2 separate regions of the Homo sapiens genome follow, and region 2 is linked to region 1. The links come from fine-mapping of genetic effects on gene expression. A gene starts in region 1. The other region holds a variant in brackets. All regions are shown on one strand. Distances are from middle to middle.

What was found. PIP is the estimated chance that this variant, and not a neighbour inherited with it, causes the effect. A credible set is the group of variants that fine-mapping cannot tell apart.
Region 2: its variant is the best candidate, but not a certain one, in a credible set for the expression of SYNGR1 in monocytes (Fairfax 2014, PIP 0.57).

What each region holds. Positions count from the first base shown.
Region 1 is chr22:39,348,538-39,351,292 of GRCh38, forward strand. It overlaps SYNGR1 (synaptogyrin 1), which reads left to right and starts at 1,454. Exons shown (of 4, transcript NM_004711.5): 1 at 1,454-1,572. The coding sequence starts at 1,474. RefSeq lists a silencer at 1,501-1,660.
Region 2 is chr22:39,371,634-39,374,643 of GRCh38, forward strand. SYNGR1 (synaptogyrin 1) reads left to right here. Exons shown (of 4, transcript NM_004711.5): 2 at 2,683-2,920. Among named protein-coding and RNA genes, the nearest start is that of SYNGR1, 23 kb to the left of the region's middle. RefSeq lists an enhancer at 2,281-2,796. The variant G/T (reference allele first, on the strand shown) is at 1,457.

The sequences.
Region 1 (2,755 bases):
CAGGAGCTCGCCACCACGCCCGGCTAATTTTTGTATTTTTAGTAGAGACCGGGTTCACCATGTTGGCCAGGATGGTCTCAATCACTTGACCTTGTGATCCATCCACCTTGGCCTCCCAAGGTGCTGGGATTACAGGCGTGAACCACTGCGCCCGGCCTTCTCTTGTGCTTTCTTCTAAAAGTTTTATATAGTCATAGTAGACACCTTATAAGTGTGCTGGATTAAATGTGAAAATGTATGTAAAGCCCTTAGCACAAGGCCTGGTAGAGACTAAACAATCAGCTGAGCCTAAGATGGACATTGACTATGTAATTTTTATAAGGAGCACCCTCAGGCCCAGCACACATTTCCTCCACACAGATGTTGTGTCCTGTCATCACAGAATGGCAGGATACCAGAGAAGCAAAAGCCTCCACCCATATCCTCATCCAACCTGCTCCTGGAACCAGTGAAGGTGACTGCAGACATAGAGAGGCCATAGAGCTACAGGGCAGCAGGAGAGCCAGCCCTGGAAGGTGGCCCTTCCCCTGCAGGGAGCACTCCTCCATCTAGCCTCCGTTTCCATGAAACCTGGAGGTCTAGCCCAAGCTGTGATGGGGTGATGGGGACTAGGCTCTGTTTACTGAGCACCTACTGTATGCTAGGCCCTTGGGTAAGGCATTGAATAAGTTAGACAACACCTGGGCCTCGGGAGCTCACAGACTAGCAGCAGAAGAGGCCATGAACAAATGATTGCGTAATTAATTGCTAGATTCAGGAAAGGGGCAACGTTCTGGGGTAGGAGGGGATGGGGAAGAGGAAGTCTCAGCCGCCGCCTCTGTGCCAGGCCCCTCCAGGCTGGGGGTGGGAGGGTGCGCGGGCACAGGGACACACATGACGTCATCGTAAGAGGCAGGGGAAGGGTGGTCCTGGGAGGTGGGGGCTGCTCTGGAGGGCTGTAAGAGAGGGTCATTCACTCGTGGTTCATTCATTCGAGAAATATTCATGCGGCGCCTACTGCGTACCAAGCACCCTCTAAGAAGGACGAACACAGCTCCTGCCCTCTCATTATATTTGGGGCCGACAAAGTGGCAGGAAACAGCCAAACAAATCAAGCGTGAAGATGGTTTCAGCAGAGCCGACGGCTCAGAGGGGCTGCGACCGGGGCAGGGGACCGGGGATGCGGGGCAGGGACACGGCCCACACTTGCTGTGCACGCACCGCCCTCCCCCAAACACTTTGCAAAGAGGTCACCGCACTGGCTGCGAGCGCGCCCTGAGCCCCGGGCCGCAGCACGCGCGCCCCCGCGCCCGAGGTCGCGCGCTGCCCAGCCCCCCGCCCGCGCCCCGCGAGCTGCGCCCGCCGCGCACGACGCCCCCTCGCGGGAGCCCTGGGCCGCCGGCCGCGCGCGCAGGGGAGGGGGCGGGGGCGCCGCGCACGCGCACGGGCCGGCGGCGCGCGCCGAGCGGGGGGCACCGCGCGGGTGCAGCCACGATGGAAGGGGGTGCGTACGGAGCGGGCAAAGCCGGGGGCGCCTTCGACCCCTACACCCTGGTCCGGCAGCCGCACACCATCCTGCGCGTCGTGTCTTGGGTAAGGACGGACTGGCCGACGGCTCTGCCAGGCCGGGGTGGTGGGGGTGTGAGCAAAGGCGGCGCGCCCGGACCGACCCCGACCCCGACCCCAACGGGCCCCCGGCGGCGGCGCGGCGGCGGGCGAGGAGCTGTCCTGCCTGCGGGGCCCGCTGCCGCCGCTCCTCCTTCCCGGGCCCGGGGCGGGCGGGATCCCTGGTGCTCGCGGGAGACGCCGCTCCGGCTCCCGGAGCCCTGGTTTCCTGGGGCCCCCGGTTCGTGCGCCCCCCTTCCCGCCCCGATTGCTGTGACCTCCAGGCCGCGGCTATGCCGCGAAAGGCTCGGATTGTGCGCGGCCGCCAGGGCGGACTGGGGACCGTGGGGACGGAGCCAGGGTTTAAGGTGGCCTTTTTTGGGGGGTGGATCAGGGCGTGGACCATCTCGGTGGGGTGCATGCCGCGCCTGCGATGGACGTTGGAGGAGGAGAGGGCCGGGAACCGGGTTCGTATTGCCTAGCCCGGCCCGTGTGGAGCGATGAGTCGGGAACTGAGTACCTCTCTTCCACCCGGGAACTGCCTCTCCTTCTCTGCGTGACCTTGGGCTGGGAGCCACCCAGGAAATGTTCTCGAGAAATGAGGACTTCAATTCCGAGGTGGGGAGTGTCATCTCCTCTCTCATGCCTCAGTTTCCCAATTTATAGACAAGGTGGGCGGAGCCTTCTTGAGGCCCCCTTGGGCTCTGACATTTCATGAACCGGTAACACCCCTCCCACTCAGCATGCACCTGGATGCCCAAGGCGGGTGTCTGGGAGAAAGGTCTGCTCCCACAGTGAAGAGGCCAGGGTGGCCTCCAGCCTAGCTGGGGGGCAGGGTCCTCAGTGCAGAGGGCTGAGTGGGCTCTTGTTCAGACGGGTGGTCAGGGAGAGGATGGGTCAGAGACAGTGAGCACAGAGGGAGGGGTTCAGGTGCCTTGAGTGGCACCTCATGGAAAGAAGCCCTGCTGGGGTCTGGAGAGGGGGTTTCTGGGGCTCCCTGGGTTTGGCTGGCTGTATCCCAGAAACTCCCACTCGAGGTTCTGGCCTCTGCAGGCCTGGGGCCCGTTCCTTGTGGGCTTAGACTAGGAATGGGCTAGACTGTCAGGGACCCCAGGGGCTACCCCAAGGCCAGCTGTGACCTCAGGGTGCCCAAGCTTCCTCCTTTCCTTGG
Region 2 (3,010 bases), 23 kb after region 1:
TACAAAAAATTAACCAGGTATCGTGGCAAACGCCTATAGTCCCGGCTACTCAGGAGGCTGAGGCTGGTCTTGAACTCCTGGACTCAAGTGATCCTCCTTTCTCAGCCTCCTAAAGTGCTGGGATTACACACGTGAGACACCATGCCCAGCCAAAAAGCGTGAACTTTAGAGTCAGGTACCCTGGGTTTGAAGCCAGGTTCTGTCACTGACCAGTTGTGTGACTTTGGGTGTGTTAACAATAGCTGAGCCTTAACTGTCTTATCTGCAAAATGCTGATGGTGCAGGATGTATTGGCAAGCTATTGCTGCACAACAAATTGCCCTACAACATAAGGCTTATAACAAGAAATATTTGTTATCTGACAGTTTCTGTGGGTGAGGAATCTGCTAAGCTTGGTGCCACTGCCTCAGGGTCTCTCACAAGGCTATAATCACAGCATCAGGTAGGGCTGTGGTTTCATCTGAAGGCTCAACTGAGGGTAGATCCATTCTTTTTTTTTTTTTTTTTTTTTTTTTGAGACGGAGTCTCACTCTGTTGCCTAAGCTGGAGTGCAGTGGGGTTGATCTTGGCACACTGCAACCTCCACCTCCTGGGTTCAAGCGATTCTCCTGCTTCAGCCTCCAAAGTAGCTGGGACCACAGGCACGTGCCACCACACCCAGCTAATGTTTTGTATTTTTAGTAGAGACAGGATTTCACCATGTTAACCAGGATGGTCTTGATCTCCTGACCTCGTGATTTGCTCACCTCAGCCTCCCAAAGTGCTGGGATTATAGGCATGAGCCACCATGCACCACGCCCAGCTCTTTTTTTTTTTTTTTTTTTTTTTTTTTTTTGAGACGGAGTTTCTCTCTGTCACCCAGGCTGGAATGCAATAGCACAATCTCGGCTCACTGCAACCTCCGCCCAGGCCCAGCAAACAGTTCTCCTGGGCTCAAGCAATTCTCCTGCCTCAGCCTCCCAAGTTGCTGGATGACAGGCATGTGCTACCACACCTGGCTACTTTTTGTATTTTTAGTAGAGACAGGGTTTCTCCATGTTGGCTAGGCTGGTCCCGAACTCCTGACCTCAGGTGATCCACCCACCTCGGCCTCCCAAAGTGCTGGGATTACAGGCGTGAGCCACTGTGCCTGGCCTGGGTGGATCCATTCTTAAGCTCACTGACATGGTATTGGCAGGATTCAATTACTTGTGGGTGTTGGACTGAGGGGCTCAGTTCCCTGTGGGCAGTTGGCTAAAGACCCTCAGTTCCTTGCCATGCAGTCTTTCCAAAGGGTAGTCCAAAACACAACAGCTTTCATCAGAGCAACCAGGGAGTGGGGGAGAAGAGGACGAGCAAGATGGAGGCAGAAATCCTTTGTCACTTACTCCCAGAAGTGATATCCCATCACTTCTTGCCATATCCTGTAGTGGGGTCAGTGAGATAGCATGTGTAATATACCCTTGGGATCATGCAG[G/T]GTGCCCTGTATCTGGCAGGATTGTGTCTATTGTTATTTTCTATTTAATACACACACACACACACACACACACACACATAGATAGATTTTTTTTTTTTTGAGAGTGTCTTGCTCTGTTGCCCAGGCTAGAGTGCAGTGGCTTAATCTTGGCTCACTGCAACCTCCACCTCCCAGGTTCAAGTGATTCTCCTGCCTCAGCCTCCCGAGTAGCTGGGATTACAGGCATCCGCCACCATGCCCAGCTAATTTTTGTATTTTAGTAAAGACGGGGTTTCACCATGTTGGCCAGGCTGGTCTCAAACTCCTGACCTCGTGATCCACCCGCCTCTGCCTCCCAAAGTGCTGGGATTACAGGCGTGAGCGACCACGCCTGGCCCGAGAGTTTTTTGTTTTGCTTTGTTTTGTTTTTTTGAGACAGAGCCTCTCTCTGTCACCCAGGCTGGAGTGCAGTGGCATGATCACGGTTCACTACAACCTCCACCTCCTGGGCTCAAGAGATCCTCCCCCTCATCTTCCCTGGTACCTGAGACTACAGGCACGCACCACCATACCTGGGTAATTTTTTTATTTTTTAGTAGGGGCGGGGTTTTGCCATGTTGCCCAGGCTGGTCTCCAACTGCTGAGCTCAAGTGATCCTCCTACCTTGGCCTCCCAAAGTGCTGGGATTACAGGCATGAGCCACCACCCCCAGCCCACTGTTATTTTTTCATTCATCACTCCATCTACTTGCCAGGCCTGGGTAGGGGCCTGAGACCCCAGACCAGCCCACAGCTCTGCAGAGGGAAGGAGAACACAAGATGGGGCCCGGCACATGCCAGCATCTGGAGGAGTCAGCCTGGGGGTGGGGGCTGGGCAGGTCCACAGCCCAGGAGGGCCTGTGGCTCCTTGTTCTTTGAGAGTCGGTCCAGTCCCAGGATATCTTGGTGTCAGGGCCCAGGAAGACCTTTAGGACCTGGCTGAGGGGTGTTGGAAGGGGCCACATCTATGGTCAGAGAGTCCTCAGTGCCTGTGGCTGAGGAAGGAAGTGATTGACCCCCACCTGGTGCTATGTGACCCACATAAGTTACCCTCCCTCTCTGGGGATCCCCCTCTGAAATGCCTGCTTAACCCGGGTCTTGTAGCTCACGGAGGGCCAGGCAGCAGGCGAGGGTGGCAGCCTCCCCGTCCCCTGGGTGGTGTGAGGCAGGGGTCTGCCCAGGTCTAAGGTGTGGCCCCACCCCCGACAGCTGTTCTCCATAGTGGTGTTCGGCTCCATCGTGAACGAGGGCTACCTCAACAGCGCCTCCGAGGGGGAGGAGTTCTGCATCTACAACCGCAACCCCAACGCCTGCAGCTATGGCGTGGCCGTGGGCGTGCTCGCCTTCCTCACCTGCCTGCTGTACCTGGCCCTGGACGTGTACTTCCCGCAGATCAGCAGCGTCAAGGACCGCAAGAAAGCCGTCCTGTCCGACATCGGTGTCTCGGGTGAGCCCCACCCAGCAGGTACCCCCTGCACAGAGTCTACAGAGGGCTGTCCCGGCCATAGGAGGCGGCTGCCACCCTTCTTCCCATGTT